2 separate regions of the Homo sapiens genome follow, and region 1 is linked to region 2. The links come from fine-mapping of genetic effects on gene expression. A gene starts in region 2. The other region holds a variant in brackets. All regions are shown on one strand. Distances are between the middles of the regions.

Region 1 (5,376 bases), 73 kb before region 2:
CATCTGGGCAGGGCGCAGTGGCTCACGTCTGTAATCCCAGCACTTTGGGAGGCTGAGGCGGGTGGATCACTTGAGGTCAGGAGTTCGAGACCAGCCTGGCCAACATGGTGAAATCCTGTCTCTACTAAAAATACAAAAAATTAGCCAGGCGTGGTGGCACACACCTGTAATCCCAGCTACTCAGGACGCTAAGGCAGGAGAATCACTTGAATCCAGGAGGTGCAGGTTGCAGTGAGCCGAGATTGCACCACTGCACTCCAGCCTGGGTGAAAGAGTGAGACTGTCTCCAAAAAAAAAAAAAAAAAAAAAAAAAAAGTGCCATCTGCACCTGAATTCATCCACCAGGGAAGGTCTGGATCAGAAGCACATCAACCAAGCCCTCTATGGCCACCTAGTCGTCAGTCCCCAGTCAGTGAACACTGGGGTGTAGCCAGCAGAATAATGCCCCTTGCCAAAGATGTCTTACCTCCTAATCCCCAAAACCAGTGACTGTCTTACATGGCAAAAGAGATTTTGCCGATGTGGTCCCTCTAGTTAAGAATCTTGAGATGGGAGACGTGCTGGTTATCTGGTATTATGTTCATTTTAAATGTTATTGTAATCAGGTTCTTCTGGCCTGTGTGCTCAGATCAAAGCCAGGTTTCCCAATGACCCGGTAGCCAATTTGCAATGCTTAAATATGGTTTATTGCCAGAGACTCACACATACCCAATCAATCGAGCAAACATTCACAATACAATTATTTTTTTCATTGTTTCTTTTCCTGTGAGTGATGGGAATGACATGATACAATTACTAAAGGCAGTAATGAGCGGAATGGCAAACCCAGGCTGTGGCTGAGGAGGCCAGCACAGCAGACACTCCTCTCACACAGAGCCTCTGGGCAGCCCGTCTCACCGGGAGGAGGCACTTTTTTTTTTCTATTATAAGTTTTAGGGTACATGTGCACAACATGCAGGTTAGTTACATATGTATACATGTGCCATGTTGGTGTGCTGCACCCAGTAACTCGTCATTTAACATTAAGTATATCTCCTAATGCTATCCCTCCCCCCTCCCCCCACCCCACAACAGTCCCCAGAGTGTGATGTCTCCTACAGGCAGGAATTCTCAAGGTGCCTCTGACAGTGTCAGTTCCTTGCTGGTTTTATGGTTTTCCCCAGGTGTGTCCGTCATCATCATCTCAGCCACCTTTTGGCTCCATTTTCTATCGGTTCCTTTTGGGTCTCAAGTGGTACATGCCACAGCAAATGTAATCTCATCTCTTATACATATGTTTATCGCCTTAAAGAAAAACAACTTTACTATGAGCTCAGGCTCAGTCTAGTACACATACGCTTACCACTTTAAGGAGTAAACAACTTCACTGTGGGCTTCATGCCACTTGAAAACCAAAAAGTATCTGAGGCAAGTCTGGATCAATTTAGAGGTTTATTTTGCCAAGGTTAAGGGCATGCCGATGACACGGCCTCAGGAGGTCCTGAGAACAGGTGCCCAAGGTCAGGACACAGCTTGGTTTTATACATTTTAGGGAGACATGAGACATCAATCAATACGTGTAAGATGTACTTTGGTTTGGAAAGGCAGGACAACTGGAAGCAGGGGCTTCCAGGTCATAGGCAAACCCAGAGGTTTTCTGAATCAATAGAAAGGAATGTCTGGATGATGATAAGGGGTTGTGGACACCAAGCTTTTATCATGCAGGTGAAGCCTCCAGGTAGCAGGTGTGAGACATAATAAACCGTAAATGTTTCTTATCAGACTTAAAGAGTCTGCTCTATCAGTAATTCCAAAACGGAAGACTGCATAATGAGGCATGTCCGGCTCCCCTTCCCATCATGGCCTGAACTAGTTTGCAAGTTAGCTTTGGGCCTTTACCGAGAGGACGGGTCCATATAGAGGACTGAGGGCTTAGAATTTTATTTTTGGTTTACACACATAACACAAGCCACTCCATTTTTAGACATTAGGATCACAAATCATTCTTATAGATCATCTGGGTGGGCTCAGTGTGATCACAGGTCCTCATGAGAGAGGGAGGAGGGCCACAGCCAGAGGAGACGTGAGGACAGAGGCAGAGGTCAGGGTGATGCGGAGCCACAAGCCATGGAACACAGGCGGCCTCTAGGAGCTGGAAAAGGCCAGGAAGCAGATTCTCCCCGGAGCCTTGGGAGGAATCAACCCAGCTGACCCGTTTTGGAGTTCTGACTTCAGAGCTGTACGGTGTAAAGCTCGGTTGTTTTCAGCCATTTGAGGTTTGAGGTAATTTGTGATGGCAGCAATAGGAAACGAATACACTGGCTTAGTCACAGAGTAGCCAATATGGGGCCTCAGCAACAGGACTGCTGCAGGGCTCACAGGCACCCTCAGAGACCAGCTGGCTGTACCCGCCCCTAGTGCAAACAGGCAC[C/A]GCCCTAAGTTCTTTATGTGCCTCTCAGCTAACCCTCACTATCACACACCGAGGCCCTGCAGTAAGTACCCACCAAGATGAGGAGACTGAGTTTGTTCCCGATCTCCTAGGTGGTTGGTGTCAATGAAGTCAGGGTTGGAAACTGTGATTTGATTCCACAGCCTGCATCCTTGATCATTCCATAAAATCCCGATTGCTGCTAGCTCCTTCCCAATTTGGTGTCACTAATATAATTTGTAACCACTGTTCTGTGAATAAAGAATGTAATTCTCTGTAAATAAAAACTACATTTTTTTTTTTTTTTTTTGAGACAGCCTCACTCTGTCACCCAGGCTGGAGTGCAGTGGCGCAATCTCAGCTCACTGCAACCTCTGCCTCCCGGGCTCAAGTGATTCTCCTGCCTCAGCCTCCCAAGTAGCTGTGATTACAGGCATGCACCACCAGGCCCGGCTAATTTTTGTATCTTTAGTAGAGATGGGGTTTCAACATCTTGTTCGGGCTGGTTTTGGACTCCTGACCTCAGGTGATCCACCTGCCTCGGCCTCCCAAAGTGCTGGGATTACAGGTGTGAGCCACCGTGCCGGGCCAAAGCTACATTTCTAAAAAATAAAACTAAAAACTACATTTCTGTCACCATGTCATGTGAAACAGCTGGACAGATCTCACCAAATCTGAAGGGTCCATTTGAGATGTAAAATAAGGGCTATGTTGAAGAGACAGTTACTTTAAATCTGGGAGAGTCCACAGAGAGGTACCACTTCCCCCGGAGTTGCTGAAACTAGGCTAGGGAGCTGTCCAGGGCAGCCTTGGCATAGACATCAAATATGAAGCCCAAATCCCACGTGGAAACTTGAGTTGGAGGTGTTGATTTGGGGCCAGTCGACACATCACTTGGGGCAGGTCCAGGAGGTATGCTTCCATGTGAGAGTGGCTGGATCACCCATGTGCACCCTGGAAGGTAGAAGGAAAAGATGTGCCTGAGAGAAACTTTATTACTAAATCAAAAGTTACTACAGGTTACTATCAGTTATTATAATTTTAGCAAATTTTTATAAGTCCAACATTAATTATTTCTTTTTTTCCTAGACAAAGGCTTGCTCTGTCACCTAGACTGGACTGCAGTGGCACGATCTCGGCTCACTGCAACCTCTGCCTTCCAAGTTCAAGCAATTCTCCTGCCTCAGCCTCCCGAGTAGCTGGGACCACAGACCTGCACCACCACACCCAGCTAATTTTTGTATTTTTGGTAGAGGTGGGGTTTCGCCATGATGCCCAGGCTGGTCTCGAACTCCTGACCTCAAGTGATCCACCTGCCTTGACCTCCCAAAGTGCTAGGATTACAGGCGTGAGCCACCACACCTGGCCTAATTATATCTTTCTATTAAGCCTTACCTAATAATAGTAGAGTAGGATTCTCTTTGGCTGGGTCACTATTCAATAAAATATTAAAGTTCATCCATGTGCCTCTGTTTCCCAAAGTCTCTTTGCTGTTACTATTGAGGACATTTTAGGAAATGAAGAGACAAATCATCCACAATCCAATAACCCTGCAAGCTATTTTTCTATATTATGTTATCCTCTCTTTTATCATATGCATGTATATTTTGCTCACATTTTTTAAAGCCACATAAGAAATGTATGTTTCCATTTGGAAAATTAGAAAATATGCAAAGCAAGAATTACAGAAAACTCTATGCAGAGATAAGGATCATCATGCATGTGCTGACTTTTATAAACAGGGTATCATCCCCTGATCTTGCTTCTTCCACATCACCAGTGGACTGCAGTGCCTCACCCTGCAGTTGTGAGGCTATACTCCCTTAAGCCTTAGCAGGGGTCTTCTGAGTCTCTCAGGGGCACGATGGGAAGGAAAAGGAGCTGAGTGGATGAGGCGGGAGATGGGAGACAATTATTTCAAAGAGTGCACCTCCACTGTCAGATGTTTTGTTTTAGCTTTCTGCTAAAATATTTTTTAAAAGGGAGTGCCTCACACTTAAAAAAGGCGTGAAGGCCATTTTTACATACAGAACAACAAACAGGCCAATCAGTGCAAATTCTTTTACATTTCAATGAGTGAAAATGTCAGCCAAGAAAATGCCATCTAGTGATATTTGCACAACAGTACCCTACACATAATAGGTCATGATTCTAGAACAAAATGTGAAAGTTCATCCATTGTCCTCAAATAATCAAGCCTCTGGGGAGCCTTCCAGGGCAGCAGCTGCTAGAAGGTTGGTGTCTGTAGTGTCTCCAGCACAGCAGGGTCTGGTCTGTGTCCAGGCTGCTTCTGCCATGCTCAATCTCACCTTACTCTTGAAGGAAATAAAAGGCTAGGAAGCCAGAAGAAATACTCACACTGAGGGCACTGGCCCACCAGGGATGGCATTAGCAAAAGAGACTCAATGAGGATGAGAAAACAGAGATGACAGAGACCCAAATAACATTTGAATTGGACTCTACCTGCAAGTGGAGCTTTACCATCCAGGTGAGGCAGTCATAAACCTAGGCTGGAGTGTGTGTGTGTGTATAATCATCCTGTCGGAACAGGCAAAGGAATGAACTGGAGTACCCATCAATGTTGACTCTCCATTAAACTGCTCTTAATTCCTTACAATCACGTACTTCTGGCCTCTCCTGTCTTCCCTCTTCCTCCCTCTCACTTCCTCACCTCTTTCCTTTCCAGCCTGTAGGTACTGGTCATTATCTACCCCATAGCAATGACACACACACATGCACACACTCACACACAAGTGTGCCTTGGGGGTGTGTCCCAGCTCACACTGATGGTTAGGCTGACGCTGGAAGGAGACAACAGGGCGACTCTCTTCTCCGCCCCCTCAGGTTCTTCTTGGTACTCCACTCCCATTTGCACATTAAAGATTGTAAGAGAGTTGGAACTTTGGACATGGATGGACCTCTCCCAGTAAATCTAGAAGGCATTCATTCCAACAGCATACAAAACAATA
Region 2 (5,376 bases):
AGGGCGTGGGGTTTAGTTCCAAAACGTAGGCTTGGGTATTATAGAATAAAAGCAAAAGAGGGCACAAGATGTGCATTTTCATTATGTTTACTTAGTGAAGGGTGGGCAGACATTTTCATTATTTTTGGGTTTTTTGTTTGTTTGTTTTTGAGACAGAGTCTTGCTCTGTAGCCCAGGCTGGAGTGCAGTGGCAAGATCTTAGCTCACTGCAACCTCCGCCTCCTGGGTTCAAGTGATTCTCCTGTGTCAGCCTCCTGAGTAGCTGCGATTACAGGCACCCATCACCACGCCTGGCTAATTTTTGTATTTTTAATAGAGACGGGGTCTCACCATGTTGGCCAGGCTGGTATCAAACTCCTGATCTCAGGTGATCCACCTGCCTCAGCCTCCCAAAGTGCTGGGATTACAGGCATGAGCCACCGCGCCCGGCCCATTTTCATTATTTTTAAACAAAGGCGAGCAATTCACTTTCTGGGTGCCCACCTGAAGTAGAGAATCCCAACCCCTTACCATGAAAACAGATAATCTGTTCACTGAGCCCCAAGGACAAAGCAGCCAGGGTCGACTGAGGGGCTACTGCAGCCTTCCTCTCTGACTCCTCCCACCTAACCATTCCCTCAATACCTCAATACACACACTCCTTTCTTTCCCAAGTCTATTGCCTCTTCCAAAAGCAATGTAAGATCCGCCCCAGAACAGTGGGGAGTTCTTATCCTTTCCGTTACCTAAGCAACCTGAGGGCAAAGACCTTTAGATCACCGGCAGTGCTGTTCTTTGGGTAACTTGATCTTTGCTTATCAGCTTTAATAACTTTATTATACGAAATACCCAGCCTTGATGAAGTATCGATGACTCACTAACTGTGGTGTAACTAATTGTTTCATTCATTCTACAAACTTTTTTTTTTTTTTTTGAGACAGAGTCTCACTCTGTTGCACAGGCTGGAGTGCAGTGGCGCGATCTCAGCTTACTGCAACTTCCACCTCCTAGGTTTGAGCGATTCTCCTGCCTCAGCCTCCTGAGTAGCTGGGATTACAGGCGCGTGCCACCACACCCGGCTATTTTTTGTATTTTTAGTAGAGACGAGGTTTCACCATGTTGGTCAGGCTGGTCTCAAACTCCTGACCTCGTGATCTGCCCACCTTGGCCTCACAAAGTGCTGGGATTACCGGCATGAGCCACCGCGCCTGGCCTCATTCTACAAACTTTTATTCTGCACTCACTATAGGCTGGGAGCTACACTAGGGCCTGGGGACATGAAGACAGGCGACACGGTCCCTGGGCTCAAGATGCCAGACAGATGTGCAAACAAGTGAAATCTGATGTGATATGTGCTTTAGTGGTGCCAAGGATAAAAGGATAAGTGTTAAGAAAAAGTAGCAACAATATGTCTGACTGGGAGAATCAAGAAAGGTGTCATAGAGTCCCTAACACTTGAGCTGAGAATGAGAAAGAGCATGAGCTGGCCAGGTGACACACAGAGCATATTCCAACCTAGGAGACTGGGAAATGGGCCAAAATATATACGTTTGAGGAAACAAATAGCTTACTATATAATTAAATATGAGGCAGTTTAGACTGGGCCCTTATGGATAAGTCACACCCATAAATTTTATTTCATCTTACAGGCAGTGGAGAGCCTCTGGAGGATTCTGAGCTTCGTGGTCTCATCATCAGAGTTATGTATGGCAACCATCCCAACCTTTTTGGCACCAGGGAGGGGTTTTGTGGAAAACTATTTTTCCTTGGACAGCAGAGGATGGTTTCGGGATGATTCAAGCACATGACACTTCTTGTGCACTTTATTTTCAGTGGGAGCCCTGAGCTTGTTTTCCTGCAACTATCTGGCCCCATGTGGGGGTGATGAAGACAACGGCAGATTATCAGGCATTAGATTCTCATAAGGAGCGCACATCCTAGATCCCTTATGTGTGCAGTTCACAGTAGGGTTTGTGCTCCTATAAGAATCTAATGCTGCCTGATCTGATAGGAGGCAGAGCTCTGGTGGTAATGCAAGCAATGGGGAGCAGCTGCACATACAGATAAAGCTTCACTAGCTCACCCACTGGTGGCTCACCTCTTGCTGTGTGTCCTGGTTCCTAACAGGCTACAGACCAGTCAGGTCTGTGGCCCGGGGGTTGGGAACTCCTGGTGTATGGAAGAGACTACTCTGCAGCAATGTGGACAAATAGGATGAGGGTGAGCTGTCAGGGGAGACAGGCACACATGGCAGAGCTATTTAAAAAGGAGGATAGATGACCAGGCACAGTGGCTCATGCCAGTAATCCCAGCACTTTGGGAGGCAGAGGCAGGCGGATCACGAGGTCAGCAGTTCAAGACCAGCCTGGCCAACATGGCAAAACCTCATCTCTGCTAAAAATACAAAAATTAGCTGGGCGTGGTGACATGCGCCTGTAATCCCAGCTACTCAGGAGGCTGAGGCAGGAGAATCACTTGAACCCGGGAGGCAAAGATTGCAGTGAGCCGAGATCGTGCCATTGCACTCTAGCCTGGGCAACACAGCAAGACTCTGACTGGAAAAAAAAAAAAAAAAAAAGGAGGATAGACAGGGCTTGGGGATTGGTGGATGGGTAGATAAGGAAGGAGGAGTCTAGCATGACTCTCAGACTACTGACTTGGACCAGCAGGGGAATGGCTGTGACAATAAATAAGATTGGGAAAACAAGAAGGTGAGCAAATTTAGAGGAGAAAATGAATTTCATTTTTGGCATGGTGTGGAAGGCTCGGGAGAGAGGTCTAGGCACCAGATGTCAACGTGAGGTGAAATGGATATAGCTGAAGTCAAGGGTGTGGTGAGGTTTTGCAGGGAGAGCAGGGACCTCCAGCAAGGCCAGTGCATAAGGGAGAATAGAGAAAAAAAGAACCAGAAAAAGACAAGGAGAGGCCAGAGAGGTGTGGAAAGAACCAGGGAAGACAGTTATTCACAACAAACAAAAGAGGGCAGAGTTTTAGAGAAGGAACTGAGCAGTTTGGGGCTCCAGGTGGGGCAGGAGTGGGTGGCCACGGTTGAGGGGCAGTGGCCTTCAAATTGGTCTGGGTAGGTTCTAATGGGTCAGATTGGTCAGTCCTTTCCAGGACACTGAAGGCTGCAGAGGTGTGACTGGATGCTGGTGGAGGGATGCATGGCGGGGAAGCTGAGTCAGATCCTGAAATCCTCCAAGCATGCGCCTGAAATGACCAAGGGAAATGAAGGCGGAGGCTGCTGTCGCCTGGTGGCCTGGGAAGGGCCAAGAGCCAGGGAGCTGGAGGGAGGAGAGAACGTGCGACCTCAGCACGGAGCACTGTAGGGGAGGCGGGGCTGGAGGGAGATGGCGCCGCGCTCCCGGATGAACAGAGAAAGCGACAGGGTGAGTCGCAGGGCACAGTGTGGGATGAGTCACCGACAGCAAGGCATGGACTCCGGGAAGAAGGGGAGACGAGCCGGGAAAGACTTGCATCGGGGATGTGAGCTGAGCTGCACCCAGACAAAAGCGGCTCGGGGCTCCTGAAAGCAGCAGGCACCGCCGGTCCTGCCAAGGGGCTACTTCCTGCGCGGAGTAGGAGAGTAGGAGACCCCAGGCCAGTCCCAATCCCCGGCCCGTCCGGGATGAGGGGGGCTGCGGGAGCTGCGGGGGCCTCCTCCAGGGAGGACGGTTGCAGGGTCCCTCGGCCGCCGCCCACTCCCGGGGGCGTTCCTTCCTCCCAGCTGCGCCCGGAGCGCCTGCTGCCTGGCGAGAGCCCGCCCCTCTGCAACCAGCCCGCTGCAGCGGAGGGCGCCTGGGTGCCCTCGGCCGAGCCAGCAGCCCACGGTCGGCGCCGCACTGTCCCCTGGTGGCGGAGCGCTCCCGCGACCCGGCTCGCCACGCCTGGGAGGGGTCCAGGAGGACGCGGCTGGGACCTGGGGGCTCTCAGGGTGGGGCCTTGGGGGATGAGGCTGGGGCCCGCGGGAAACCGGGCTGGGGCGAGGAGGCTCGCAGGACTTCCTGCCACAGAATGTTTCGATGCTTTTTTTAATTCTGCAAATGTAAGCCTTTCCACTTTAAGTCCAAGCTCAGCGCAGAGGACTGTTCTATAATACATACAATTTAGTTTAAAAATGTTGCAAATGTTAACATGTGTCACAAACTCAAGCAATCCAGTATTATAGAAAGCAAAGAATGAAATGTGCTGCTTCTTTCTCCCCCAGACGCCCTTGCATACATTAAGATATGTATATATGGAAATGTTACCGGGAGTCCCGGTTATCCCAAAAAGGGTTGTTTCCTGTTGCGTGGTGAGGCCAATGCACGAAACCGAAAGGGAGTGTGTCAAGCAGTGCAGGCTGTATTCAATGGCTATGGAATTGGAAGATCTGAAATCAACTTAGCTTGTGAGAGCTGGGAAGTTTCAGAGGTAGGGTGTCTTTAATGAAGGGGCTGGGCATTAAGAGCACGGGGGGGAATATTCGTGCTTTCCTTGGGAAAGAACGGAGATTTTTCCCGGAATCAAGAAACCCCTTTTTTTCTGTCCCTTCTTGGTCTCTTCCAGTCGTTGTCATGGCGACATGTTGTTTAGCATGAGAACAGGATGATGATAAAGCCAGAGGCTCTTCAGAGGCGCCATCTTGGATTTCGCCAGCTTCAGCTGGTTTCGTCCTAAGAAGGAACTTCGAAACACAGGCATTCTTTTTCCTGAAAATAAGCAGAGTTACAGCTGAGTAGGAATTTAGCTCTGTCCCATATGCTATCGCATTGGGCAGCAAAAGCAGGGTGGGGTCCAGCGAAATCAGCAGGCACTGCAATGAGTAACATACCCAGCCACGTTTATGCAGCATTTTTACGAAAATGAAACCATACTACCTGTAAAGGAAGATATGCTAACAAACAACAAAACTGGCAGGAACCAAGATTCCTACTGACACTACCCTTAGTTTTAATTTTCCCTGACAACAAATGAGGTTAACAGAGCATAATTATCTACCGTGACCCCTTCAAAAAGACAGGCTGTATACATTTGCACTAAGAGAAGAAATCGTGTAATGTCAGCAAATTTCCCCCACTTAAAGCTTCTCTATTTAAAAAGCTTCACGCACACATGCACGCATATGTCTTCAAGATGACCACAATTTATTTTGCAGTCATTCTTTGCACCAGTTCCCAATTTTTCCCACTAGCTTGCAAGCTCCGTGACTCGAGGAGACCGGGGGATCAGAGTTTGTTTTTGCGGAGAAGTGAGTCCTTTATGCCCCAAATAGTGACTGACATAGAGAAGGTACTCAGTAAACACTTTTTAAAGGAATGCCTGCCTGACTGAAGCTTAATGATGTGAGGCTTCTAGTGGGATACCCTACCTTGTTTTAACCTGAAGTGACTCTTCCTTAGCTAAGAGAGCCAGACG

Evidence for each region. PIP is the estimated chance that this variant, and not a neighbour inherited with it, causes the effect. A credible set is the group of variants that fine-mapping cannot tell apart.
Region 1: its variant is the best candidate, but not a certain one, in a credible set for the expression of LINC01011 in testis (GTEx, PIP 0.81).

The regions. Positions count from the first base shown.
Region 1 is chr6:2,912,111-2,917,486 of GRCh38, forward strand. No RefSeq gene overlaps it. Among named protein-coding and RNA genes, the nearest start is that of SERPINB9, 11 kb to the left of the region's middle. RefSeq lists an enhancer at 4,272-4,814. The variant C/A (reference allele first, on the strand shown) is at 2,411.
Region 2 is chr6:2,985,342-2,990,717 of GRCh38, forward strand. LINC01011 (long intergenic non-protein coding RNA 1011) reads left to right here and starts at 2,626. Exons shown (of 3, transcript NR_026856.1): 1 at 2,626-2,690; 2 at 4,187-4,392; 3 at 4,528-5,376. NQO2-AS1 (NQO2 antisense RNA 1) reads right to left here. Exons shown (of 2, transcript NR_186367.1): 2 at 3,995-4,670. RefSeq lists enhancers at 2,568-3,377, 3,378-4,187, 4,188-4,997, 4,561-4,720, 4,998-5,376 and a silencer at 3,571-3,990.